Linked DNA regions of Homo sapiens. The protein of the gene in region 3 interacts with the protein of the main gene of each other region in a biochemical or structural test. Each region holds a gene or a part of one and is shown on either strand. Other genes may lie near its edges.

Region 1 (3,600 bases), on a different chromosome or scaffold from region 3:
ACCATAAATAGCTTCAACAATTCAGATCAGGTTTTTCTGCAAAGTGAGAGATGACAATATTCTTTTCAGTTTTTTTAAATTTTAGAATTGCAGGTTAAGAGACTGTGGACCTCTATAAATTCATGTAGGAATAGAAACAAGTCATCCGAAATTTAAGAGACCTTCCCTGAACCATCCCTCTTTTTGAAAAATTTTGACTCTTATATGAGAACCACTGAAAGTTTAAATATTAAAACAATAAATCTTTATTAAACAGTTTTCACGGCATTTTAAAATAAATTTAAAAAATAAATATTTGCATTATAGCAGAAAGTCACATGTATTGCATCAACTCACTTTTACAATTTAATGGCATGAGACAACTAAGCATCAGCACCATAAAACTGTTAAGATTTGTTTCTTAAATTCAAGGAAATAGCTCTAAAGCACTGCAGCATCAATAATTTTGAAAGCTATAACCCAGTGATTGGTGCTCATAGTAGCCAATGTTTCTTTTTATTACTGGCAACTGTGGAGACAGAGTTCTTCCAGTACTAAATATTAATAAGTTCTCTGATCGACAATCCCCCATCTATCAGTGTGTCAGGATTCACAAAGAAAAGAACTGCAGGTTATGTAGTATATTCCCTATCTGTGATTTAGGTTTGCACAAAGACACTTATTCTAGCAAAAAAGAAAAGATAGTGTTTCCACCATGCTACCTTTTTTTTCTTTTTATAGAGTCTCAGAGTAAGATTTAAATCATAATTTTTAACCTTTAAAAGTCTGTTCAAGTTCAATTACAACCATAGAAACTGTACTGGTATCAGAACATAACTATTTTATTACAAAACTTAACATTATTTACAAAATGAAAAAATAATCAAATGACTATTGCAGGCCAAAGTTAAAGGTTTTTCACTCAATGATTGAAGAAAAATTAAGCAATATTTCCATGCACTCACACCAGATCATTTCTGAAATATGCAAACTCTTAAAATTCATGTTAGTAAAACTTTAATGTATTCATAATACTTGCTATGTTTATTAGAAGATGGTCAAAAAAAATCCATGGTTCTGTACAATAATATTAACAGTTTGTTCATTTTCCTTTAATATTTTTTGGCTTCCATGAACACTCGTAGATTGAACATTCTGCAAGTAAGAATTATAATAGTACCTCTGTCACCTTGCTGAATTCATCACCACAAGAAAAACACAAATAGTTTAATGCTTTTGCACTAAACTGAATAGTTATAACTCCAAAGTTATATTAAACTGAAGCCTTCATTGTGATCAATAGCTTGGATCAGTTTAGAGCGTAGAGTTTCTTTTTCTGTATATTTTGGAAGATCCAGAAGATTAAAACAAGTATGGGAAACTGGGAGATACTCCTCACCACCTCCTGTGGACTGGATGACTAGTTTCAGACTCTTCATACCAAGAATAGGAATGCGATCACTACCTGTCAAAAATACTGCCAAGAAAGAAATCATTCAGTCAACCACTTCAAAACAAAAAGATACAGTAGCAAGTAATATTTGGTACAGTCGCTACAGCAGAGCTTCACTTTAACATCTGCTCTAACGTGTTATCTTACTTCCTAATTTGTGGAAGACAAGTTTTTTGAGACACATTCTAATTGCTCATCCACACAATATTTTTTCTTTAAAAGTATAATCTTAATACTGGCACAAAGGAAGTGCTTAATAAATGTTTGATAAGTGAGTATTTTGCCATTGCCAAAACATTTTGAGAGCCCTTTTTTGGAAAAGCCATTCAGAACTAGTTGACAAACCAAATACAAAATGCAGTTTTGATTATGATTTCTTTTTCTATTTGCTTCGTTTCTGTTATTTTTTTTAAATCAGAAATTTATAATGGGCAGCCAAAATTCAAATCATTCTTTTTTTTTTGAGACGAGTCTTGCTCAGTTGCCCAGGCTGGAGTGCAGTGTGCGGTCACAGTCACAGCAGCCTCGACCTCCTGGGCTCAAGCAATCCTCTCTACCTCAGCTTCTGGAGTAGCTGGGAGCACAGTCACCAAGCCCAGGGCTAATTTTTATAGAGATGAGGTTTTGCCATGTTGCCCAGGCTCAAATCACTCTTAAAGAGTAATGATTTCTCATCCTTATGACACACAGAAGAATTTGACCAAGATTCTCGGAGGTTGCCAAATCATTCCTGGCAAAAGCAGGAGTATCAAAGGAAATGTCACCGATTTGGACACATAAATTCTGACAACTTTAAAAATAAGTCAAATTTCAATTAGAATACAGACTTTAACAGAAGAAAGATACACAGGCATCAGTTATAAATGAGGGAACTAAGGCCTGAAAAAGCTTTATTTTATATAGAAATTGCCAAAGTTTTAGTCTTGAAGCAAAAAGAAAAAGAAAAAGAAAATGAAGACCAAACAGAGAAAAGAGCAATACAGTTGGCCCTCCGTATCTGTGAGCTCTGTATCCATGGATTGAACCGACTGCAAATCGAAAATATTTTCAAAAAATGGATGCTTGTGACTGTACTGAATGTGTCAACTGTTTTTCTTGACATTGGTCCCTCAACAATACAGTATAACAACTATTTACATAGCATTTACATTGTATGAGGTATTAATAACATGTACATTCATGTGTCACTTAACGATGATGATATGTTCTGAGAAATGCATCATTAGGTGATTTCATTCTGTAAACATCATATATTTACACAACCTAGACAGTATATAGTCTACTACACACCTAGGCTACATGATATAGCCCTATTGCTCCTAGGCTACAAACCTGTACAGCATGTTACTGTACTGAATTCTGTAGGTAACTGTAACATAACAGTAGGTATTTGTGTATCTAAACATAGAAAAGGTACAGTAGCTGTATTATAATCTTACAGGACCACTATCGTATATATGGTCTGTCATTCACTGAAAAGTCATTATGTGGCACATGACTGTAATCTAGAGAAGATTTAAAGTATAAGGATATGTGTAGGTTATATGCAAATACTATGCCAATTTATACAAGAAACTTGAGCATCTACTGGATTTGGGTATCCTTGGCAGGGAGGTCTTGGAATCAATCCCCCATGTATGCCAAAGGATGACTATACTCCAGAGATCTTTTTAGAAATCTAAAAGGAATTCTACAATCCTAGTTTATTGTAACCACAGTTTATTGTAACTATAACATAGCTATAGTTTGCTTTCATTTCCAAGTTAGCTTCCATTTTACTTCATAGAATGAATCAATGCTATTTTGAAGGCAAACTGAATTTAGCCTTTGAAATAAGAAAATACATGTACTGAAGAGTGCAGATAGTTCTGTTTCAAAAAAATTACTTGAAGATTAAAACAGGGCTTTGGAATAATACTATAATTAGATTCCAGTCTCATAAAGTATACAACTAGTTAGAAATACTTACACAGAAACTGTTTCTTCTTTTCCAATGGTAATTCGTGAAATACTTCCCAAAAAATTTTTATCGTAGGATGTTCTGCCCAATATTCCCCTTTGTATTCTGTATTCTAAAAACAACATAATCTTTTATTAGTATTAAGGGACACACTGGCTAATATATTAGCACATAAAGCTAACATGGTCCAGTAGTTTGCAACTTGTGC
Region 2 (3,820 bases), on a different chromosome or scaffold from region 3:
CAGCGATGACAGTGAGTAGCGGCGACGACACAGGCCGCGCCGGAACTTGCCGCTCGCGCGGGGCCGCAAAGGACCCGGGGGCTACCCCGTGCCTCCGGCTCCCGGCTCCGGGAAAGACCTTCTGTTCTCTGCCGGCGCGGAGGGCCGCAGGAACCAGGCCTCTCGCCTCCCCACCAGCTAGGCAGGGAGCGCCCATCTCCTGAAAAATTACTTCCTGGGAAGCGGTGCGGGGAGACAGCTTCAATTGCTTTCGGTTGGTGAAAAACGAATTCGCTTCTCAGATTGCTCTCCTAGCTGCCAGGCTCTGACGTTGAGAGGCCGGCTTTCAGCCTCGCGGTGAGCCCCCGCCTTGCCCCAGCCCCTTCCTCTTTACTCCTATCCTGTTTCCACAACCAGGGCAGCCGGACACTGCTGGGTTGGGTGCAGTTTCCTTTCCCTCCCTGCCTTTCTGCACCTACCTGGCGCCCCTAGATGCCTGCCCTTCCTTAACGAAGCGCGGGAAGTGAGGGGCTCCGGGGCTCCGAAGGCGATCTGGGGCCTGGGTCCGAGGCACCCATGTCCCTACTCGGCTTCCTCGATGTGCACTACCAAGGAGTCCTGGGTTCCCGGATCCCCTGCTGGAGGAGGATCTGTAGTGTCCGAAGCCCTGAGCAGGACTCAGCCTCGGCTCTCTAAGGATGGCGCTGGGAGCGCGGGCTCCTGGGGCGAAGATGGGCTCAGCGAACAGGGAAGGAAGGAGTGTACACTCCCAGGAGAGCTGGGTGGGAAAGATGCTTCAAACTGGACTAGAGAAGCACTGCTGTGAGGGATGGGCTCGGTAGCTCCCTGATGTAGTTTAGTCCGACCCGGGATAATCCAAGGCGCCGGGAACAGAGAGAAGGCTCCTGGGAGCGCTTGGAGGTAAGGCGGCCGGGTGAGAACCGGAAAGGAGAAAGGGGTGGGGAGCCAGGCTTACCTGCCCACTGGCCTTTCCACGCGTGAGCTTTGGTAGACTTCATCCATGGGAAAGGCAGCTGGACGCGGTTGGGCTCCTCCAGGACGCCCGGCTCGGCTCCCTCCGGGAAGGGCCCGGCGGGCGGGTGGGGGAGCGCGAGCTGAGCCGGGAGGTGGTGGTGAAGGTGCGCCACCGCGGGGTCGTCGGCGAGGGGGGGCACCTCGTACGGGGAGATGTCCGGGGGGCTGCCCTGCTCCAGCGCGCCCAGGGCGCCAGGGAACGGGTGCGGCGGCGGCGGCGGGGGCTGGCGGCCCATGTACAGGCACGCAGGGGGGCTGGCGCTGAACTCCGGCGCCGGGCCTCGCTGGAACGCGCATGGGTCCTTGTAAAGCTGCGTGGCCGCGTAGTACTGCTCCTCGCCGTTCATGGCTGCGGCCCGGGATTGGGCACCGGGAGCCGGGAGCCGGGAGCCGGGAGTCGGGAGCTGGAGCCGGGGATTTGGCACTGTGTGGCGTTCCCACTCCCGGCGCCACCCCTGCTCGCTTTGACAGCTCCGCACTGATCTCAGAGGGAACCCACAGCCAGCGCGGACCGGCGGGCCGGCCGCCGCACCATAGGCTCCGCGGGGCCCCACGTGGTTCAGCCGGGGGCCGTGATTGGCCTGGCTGGCCGCACTAAGAGGCTAGGCCCAGGTACCCGCGAGCACCTGCTTTTGTTCCAATTTTCTCTCTCAGCTGAGTTTGCTGCACACTCCTGAACGGGCAGCTGGCGGTGCTCCCCAAAATGGGCGCTCACGAAAACATTAGAACCACTCATTTATAGAAACATTTTCACCGTGGCTTAAAAGTTTCTATTTTCCTATATTTTTCTATTTTCTATTTTCCTATATTTTTTCTATTATATTTGATAATGGACATAGTGTGTTTGTTAATTGATGTAGTTTACAAGGAGACATGTTGAGTTTTTAATTTTTTATTTAACTGTTGCGGAATACGATAAAAAAAAAGTTTGCAGACCCAGCTCTCTAGGTCAGAAGCATTTGATTCTATTTTATTTATGAAGTTTGTTCACAGCCACAAAGATGTCGGTTAAAAAACACACGAAACTCTGGCATTCGTTGTGTGTTTTTACTTGTGGATGTGCTGCAAGTACTTCTGGGGTGTAAACGGTAACTTCTGAAGCATTCACAGAGACTTTTTTAAATTCTTTTTTTTAAAAAATTGAAGGGTATTACAAATTTGGGTTTTGGAAAATTGGGGCCCATTTGGCCAGCCCGGAACGTAGCTTCCCAATACAGCGAGGGGGAAAGACGCGGCCTTCCTCTTGGGGCTGCGAAGCAGGGGCAGGTGTTGGCACGGGGGTTCCAGACCCTTGACGACTCTCTACGGGCCGGGACCCTGGCGGAGTTTGCCGGCAGAGAACACTCACTCTCTTCTGCTTGCAATTGAAATAAGGCAAGCAGGAGAGGGGGAAGTGGAGGAAGAGTTACATATTTAGAAAAAGAAATAAAAACGCTGCATTTTCCATGATAACATCTGTGCTTGGCTTCAAACCATTCAGTAACTTCTGGGCATTCTGGGGTCCTGACTTAAACAGGGCCACTTTTTCTGCACCCACTGACGCGGATGGATGACCTCCGGGTGGCGGTGACGTCCAACCCCCTGCCTGGGCATGATCCGCTAGGCCTGGCGGCCTGACCAGCCTCTGACTGGATACTCCCGAAATGAGGACGTTTCTCGAAACGCCACCGTGGGTTTTAGAAAAACTAGACAGCTTTGCAGAAACGTCTCAGCAAGAGAGAGCTTGAACCACAAAGAACCAAGCCAGAGAAAAATCACTGCTCCGCCTTTCCTAAACAACGCACCAACATCCAGACCTTTGAGAGTCAATCTTAATGTATTTCTTTCTTCCTACTGGAAATATTTGTGTTTTAAGTGCGGATTGAGTGCTCTATTCTGAGGACTCTTTATTTTTATTAAAAGACAAAAAAGCCAGTCGGGAATGTGGACTTCTCTGCAGATTCCTTCTCTTGCGGGAGGCCGGTATAGTCTCAGCATTTGCTTCGATGTGTGAGAACTCATGTGTGTGGCTTCCTGGCCTGTGGCCTCATGTGTGTGGCTCTGATGTGTGGCTCCCTGGCTTGTAGATGCCCTTGCTGTCACCGAAGACAGGCCAAGGGAAGCACGGCGGCGGGCGGGGAGAGTTTCGGTGATTTCTTCAGGGAAAAGTGCCACCTGCAGTTTTGGTGGGGGCAGAGAGTGAAAGGCCGTGGGGCCCGGGCACCTAATCTCTGTGCGCCCGCGTCAATGAGTCCATTGTCTGCGGCCGCGGAGAACTCTACCCTATCACCCTGGCCGCGAGTGACCACATCGATCAGGAGGGCAGGCTGGAGGGGGTTGCCTGGCCGCGGCGTGTTGACCCTTGGAGATAATCTGCCGAGTCGCCGAGGGTTGACTTGGCGACGCGGTTATGAGCGGACGGCAAGCTCCGCTCAGGACAAAGATCGGCCACTTTTCCCCTCCCCCTCCTTTTCCTCCCCCTTCCCCTCCTCCCTGGGCACCCCTACACCCACTCTGGACTCAGTCTGCGCCCCACTCTCCCTCCCCTGCTCCCTGCCTCGCCTGCCACCCCCGGAGTGTTTACTTTGCACTTCTCAACTAATTGCACATTTCTGTAAATTGGTCTCCATTTCGATGCTTCATTTGCTTCCATTTAATATTTTTGCTCGGCCCTGCAGAAAGAAAAGAGGCTCTCAGCAGAAAGCAAATCCGCCGGTTGCGGTCGCCGGCAAAAACCCGGGTACCCGCGGCTGTGGGGGAGGAGGAGGGGATCGCCGGGGGTATTCCATGGAGGCGCGTTCTCACTTTCACAATTAGCATTTTCTGC
Region 3 (3,820 bases):
GAGGGGGCAGGCAGGGGCCGGGCCCCTCCTGGCGAGCGACTCATGCTGTGACTCGCGACTGAGGGCGGACCCCGGCTGGGGAAAGAAGGGGCTTCCTCCAAGGTTTTCTTTTCTAATCACCAAGCATAATAATTATAAATACTTCGAAAATAAGACCGATTTTAAAACGGGGAGGGGAAGTTAAAAAAGGCAAGGAAAGGGAGGCTGAGAAGAGAACGAAGGAGGGCGGGGGCAGGCAGGGGCCACCCGGGAAGGGACGGCAGCGCGGTCCCTCTAGGCTGGCAGGGCGAAGGTGGGAACGGAGAACCACGTTCAACGTATGTACAAGCGGACGCTTGGAAAGAAGTTAGACCTGGCTCAAGTTTCCTTAGAAATCACCGTTCTCCGCTCAACCTCAGGACGGCGACCCGGGCCGACGCGCGCGAACGGGGACCGGGAGCGAAGGGGCCTCCAGCCCCGCGCCCGCAGACTTGGCACCGGGGCCAGCACGGCCGGGCCGGGCCTGGTGTCCACGTCCTGTACCGCGGAGTCCGAGCCGAGGCCCCGAGAGGCCTGCGCGAACTTGTCCCCGGCGACGGCGGCGCGGGCTCGGGGTCCGGCGCCTACAGGAAGAAGTCGGCCGTGCCCTTGGCCCCGCCGGGACCGGCCTGCGGCGGCGAAGGCTCCCGCGGGAAACCGGCCCCGCCCGCGCTCCCGGGGCCGCCCCGGCCCGCCAGCTTCTCGTATTTCTCCTTGTACAGGTCCCGCTCTTTGGCCAGGCGCCCCACCTCCAGCTTCAGCTGCTCCACCTGGCTCTGGAGTTGGCACTTCTCGCTCTCCAGAATGTGCCGCTGCTGCACCCGCTTGAAGCGGCAGGACTGCGCGTAGCCGCGGTTCTTGAGCGTGCGCCGCTTCTGCTTGAGCCGGATGACCTCCTCCTTGCTGAAGCCGCGGAGCTGCCGGTTCAGCTCGCGCACCGACATGGACACCAGCTGGTCGTCGGAGAAGCGCTCCTCCAGGCGCACGTGGTGGCCCGCGCCACCGCCGTGTCCCGCGCCGCCATGGTGGTGGTGGTGGTGGTGGTGGTGGTGGGCGGCGTGGTGATGGTGGGCGGCGTGGTGCGCGCCGTGGTGGTGGCCGGCGCCCATGTCGTCCGCTCCGCCGCCGCCCGCGAAGCCCGGGCCGCGGAAAGCCTCGTAGGCTGCGGCGGCCGCCGGGTGGTGCGCGCCGTGGTGCGCGCCGTGGTGGCCGCTGCCGATGAGCGCCTCCACCGCGTCCTCGGGCGTCAGGTTGAGCGCCTCGGGGTTGAGGTGATGCTGGTAGCCGCTCATCCAGTACAGATCCTCCAGCGCCGGCTTCCCCGAGGTGCCCCCGACGGCGCCGGGGCCCCCGCTCGGCGGCCCGGGGGCGCCCCCGGCCTGAGACGAGCCGCCGCCGCCCCCCGCGCCGCCGCCGCCGCCGGTGCCCGGGCTGGGCGCGCAGAAGCTGGGCGAGGAGGGCACGGAGGAGCAGGGCGTGCTGAGCGGCGTCGAGGACAGCGAGCCTGGCGGCAGGCGGTGGCAGAAGCGCTCGGCCTCGGGAGGCTCCTTCTTCACCTCGAACTTCATCAGGTCGAAGTCGTTGACGTACTCGATGGCCAGCGGGCTGCTGGGCAGCTCGGCGCCCATCGCCAGCTCCGCGGCCATCGCCCGGGGCCCGCGCCCGGCCGCGCCCCGACGGGCGGCGTGGGAGTGGGGGGGGAGCTGCAGGCCTCTCCCCCCCCTGCTCCCCGCGGGCGGCGGTCCCGGCGGGGGCGGGGGGGCGCCGGCGCGGGGCGGCGGCGCCGAGGGGCGCAGGGAAAAGTTTCACGTGGTCAACTCCGGGGCGGCGCGCTAGGGGCACCGCTGGCCAGGTGTCTCGGGCGACCCCGGGCCCGCGTCGCCGCCTCCTCCCCGCGGCCGCCGCCTCGGGCTGCTCCGGGACCGCTCCCGCGCCCCACCCGCGCCGCCGGCCGGCCCCGCCTCCCACGGCTAAACGCGAAGCCGCGCGCGCCCCTTTATAGAGCCGGGTGCCTGGGCCCGCCTCCCCGGGAGGGGCGCGCGCCCCCGGGCCAATCGGAGCCCCAGCCCCGCCGCCCTCATTTGCTTATCCCCATGGCAACTCAGAGCCCAGCTGTCAATCTCCTGCGGGAAACAGCTGTGGGAAGAGGTAGGGACGGGCCGCCGGCTAGAGGAGAGGGCAGGGCCCTCTGGTGGCCATCACGGGGCACTGCACGGGCAGAGGGCGCGCCGCCTCAGGGGACAACTGCCGTCTCCAGGGGCCTCAGCTCCCACACCCGGCGGCCGGAGAGTCCGGGGAAGCAGACGGGGACCGCGCCCGGGGACCCCCTCGGGGCCTCGTCCGCCTCGGGCCACGCGGCGGGACGCCCCCTCGGCCCCCTGGGTTTGCGGCCGGGCCTGGGGGCCGGGGGCAGCTCCGCTAGCGGCGGCGGCGGCGGCAGCGGGACCTCCGGGCCTCTGGACACGGGTGACACCGCGCGGCCCGGCAGAGCGCGGCGCGCTGAGCCGGTTATTTTTAGCCCGCGGCTCAGACGCGTTCAGGAATTTGGTCAACAAAGTTGCCGGCACCTCCGGGCACCGGGAAGCACGGGGCGGGCGGAGGGGGACACACGCGTGCGGGGCGGCGCGAGGGGCCGGGGACGGAGGGCCGGCTTGTGGGGGGCCGCGGAGAGCGCAGGACTGTGGGGGTCGCGGGACAACGCGGGTGGGTGCGAGCGGCGGGGGCGGGGCCCACGGGCTGGCAGCCCCTCAGGGCGTTAGGAATCCCCGCCCAAGCGGCCACCACTGCCCACTTTCGCCCCCCGCAGGGCTGGAGGCGCCTTGCTGGGCCTGGAGTGGGACGGGGGGTAACTGAGACGGGAAGGCGGGGATTTCCACCTGGCGGCCGTGCACCTGCTGGGAGGAGACGGCTCCGGTTCACGGGGCAAAGGAGGTGACGATGGGCGGTGGGCCTGTGACCCCAGGTCCCCGACACCAGCGAGCCGGGTGATGGGAGGGTTGCGCCAGGAGTTACAAGGCCGGTGACCCGAAGTGGGCCTATTGTTTCTTCTCGAAATTCTCTCCATTGCTGTTCTATGACTTCAGCAATTTAAAAAAAAAAAAAAAAAGTCTAAAATGTAACCACCTGTGTAGAGAAAAAAAGCCTGGAAGGAGTTGCGCAGAGGCCACAGGGAGGCCTGGTCACGGCGCCGCAGATTTAGTACCAGGCTCTCACCTCCTTCCCTCTACAAAGATCTATTGTTTTGTAACAAGAAGACTGTCATGAAGTGAGGACTGAACATCTGCTTCCTAAGGTGTCTCGGGGTGTCCCTGGCCCTTCCCTGGGCCCTCCCACTCCTCTGGGCAGAGCTGGGACTGCTGATTTGGGAAGACCAGGCCTTCCTCCCCGCAAGGGAGGGCCAAGGACAGCATGAGGACCCACCTGCAGGGACCCCTCTCCCCCGATCCTGTCCCAGAGGGGGCTCTGAGCTCCCCACCCTTCTACAGATGAAGAAATGAAGTGGGCATGCAGCAGAGCCAAGTCCCCACACTGGGTACCTGGACTTGAGACCACACGAGTGGTCAGCCAGCCAGGGGTGTGGGGTTTCCTTTATGGCACCCCGTGTTGAGAGGGAGGCCCGGGAAGGGAGGATGCCGCCGCGCAGTGGAGCTGGTGGTAGTCCAGGTTGTCTGCACCTGCAGCCCCAGGAGAGGCCTTGGGGCTACAGGGCCCTCCCACGGCCCCTCCAAGGGTCTAGCAGCATTTCTGGGTACCACACCCTGGAGGCCCTGGGGCACACTGGAAAGGGGGTTGAGGAGGAAAG

The links.
Region 1: of the proteins of MAFA (region 3) and HERC4, one has a biochemical effect on the other in vitro, tested with the Homo sapiens proteins (one study listed by BioGRID).
Region 2: the proteins of MAFA (region 3) and PDX1 form a complex in vitro, tested with the Homo sapiens proteins (one study listed by BioGRID).

What each region holds. Positions count from the first base shown.
Region 1 is NC_000010.11:67,921,684-67,925,283, forward strand, and holds the end of HERC4 (probable E3 ubiquitin-protein ligase HERC4), read right to left. Parts: intron 3,505-3,600; coding exon 3,402-3,504; intron 1,457-3,401; coding exon 1,248-1,456; 3' UTR 222-1,247; downstream 1-221. UniProt on the Homo sapiens protein: Probable E3 ubiquitin-protein ligase involved in either protein trafficking or in the distribution of cellular structures. Required for spermatozoon maturation and fertility, and for the removal of the cytoplasmic droplet of the spermatozoon.
Region 2 is NC_000013.11:27,917,680-27,921,499, reverse strand, and holds the start of PDX1 (pancreas/duodenum homeobox protein 1), read right to left. Parts: upstream 1,501-3,820; 5' UTR 1,362-1,500; coding exon 956-1,361; intron 1-955. UniProt on the Homo sapiens protein: Activates insulin, somatostatin, glucokinase, islet amyloid polypeptide and glucose transporter type 2 gene transcription. Particularly involved in glucose-dependent regulation of insulin gene transcription.
Region 3 is NC_000008.11:143,428,743-143,432,562, forward strand, and holds the start of MAFA (transcription factor MafA), read right to left. Parts: upstream 1,991-3,820; 5' UTR 1,665-1,990; coding exon 603-1,664; 3' UTR 1-602. UniProt on the Homo sapiens protein: Transcription factor that activates insulin gene expression. Acts synergistically with NEUROD1/BETA2 and PDX1. Binds the insulin enhancer C1/RIPE3b element. Binds to consensus TRE-type MARE 5'-TGCTGACTCAGCA-3' DNA sequence.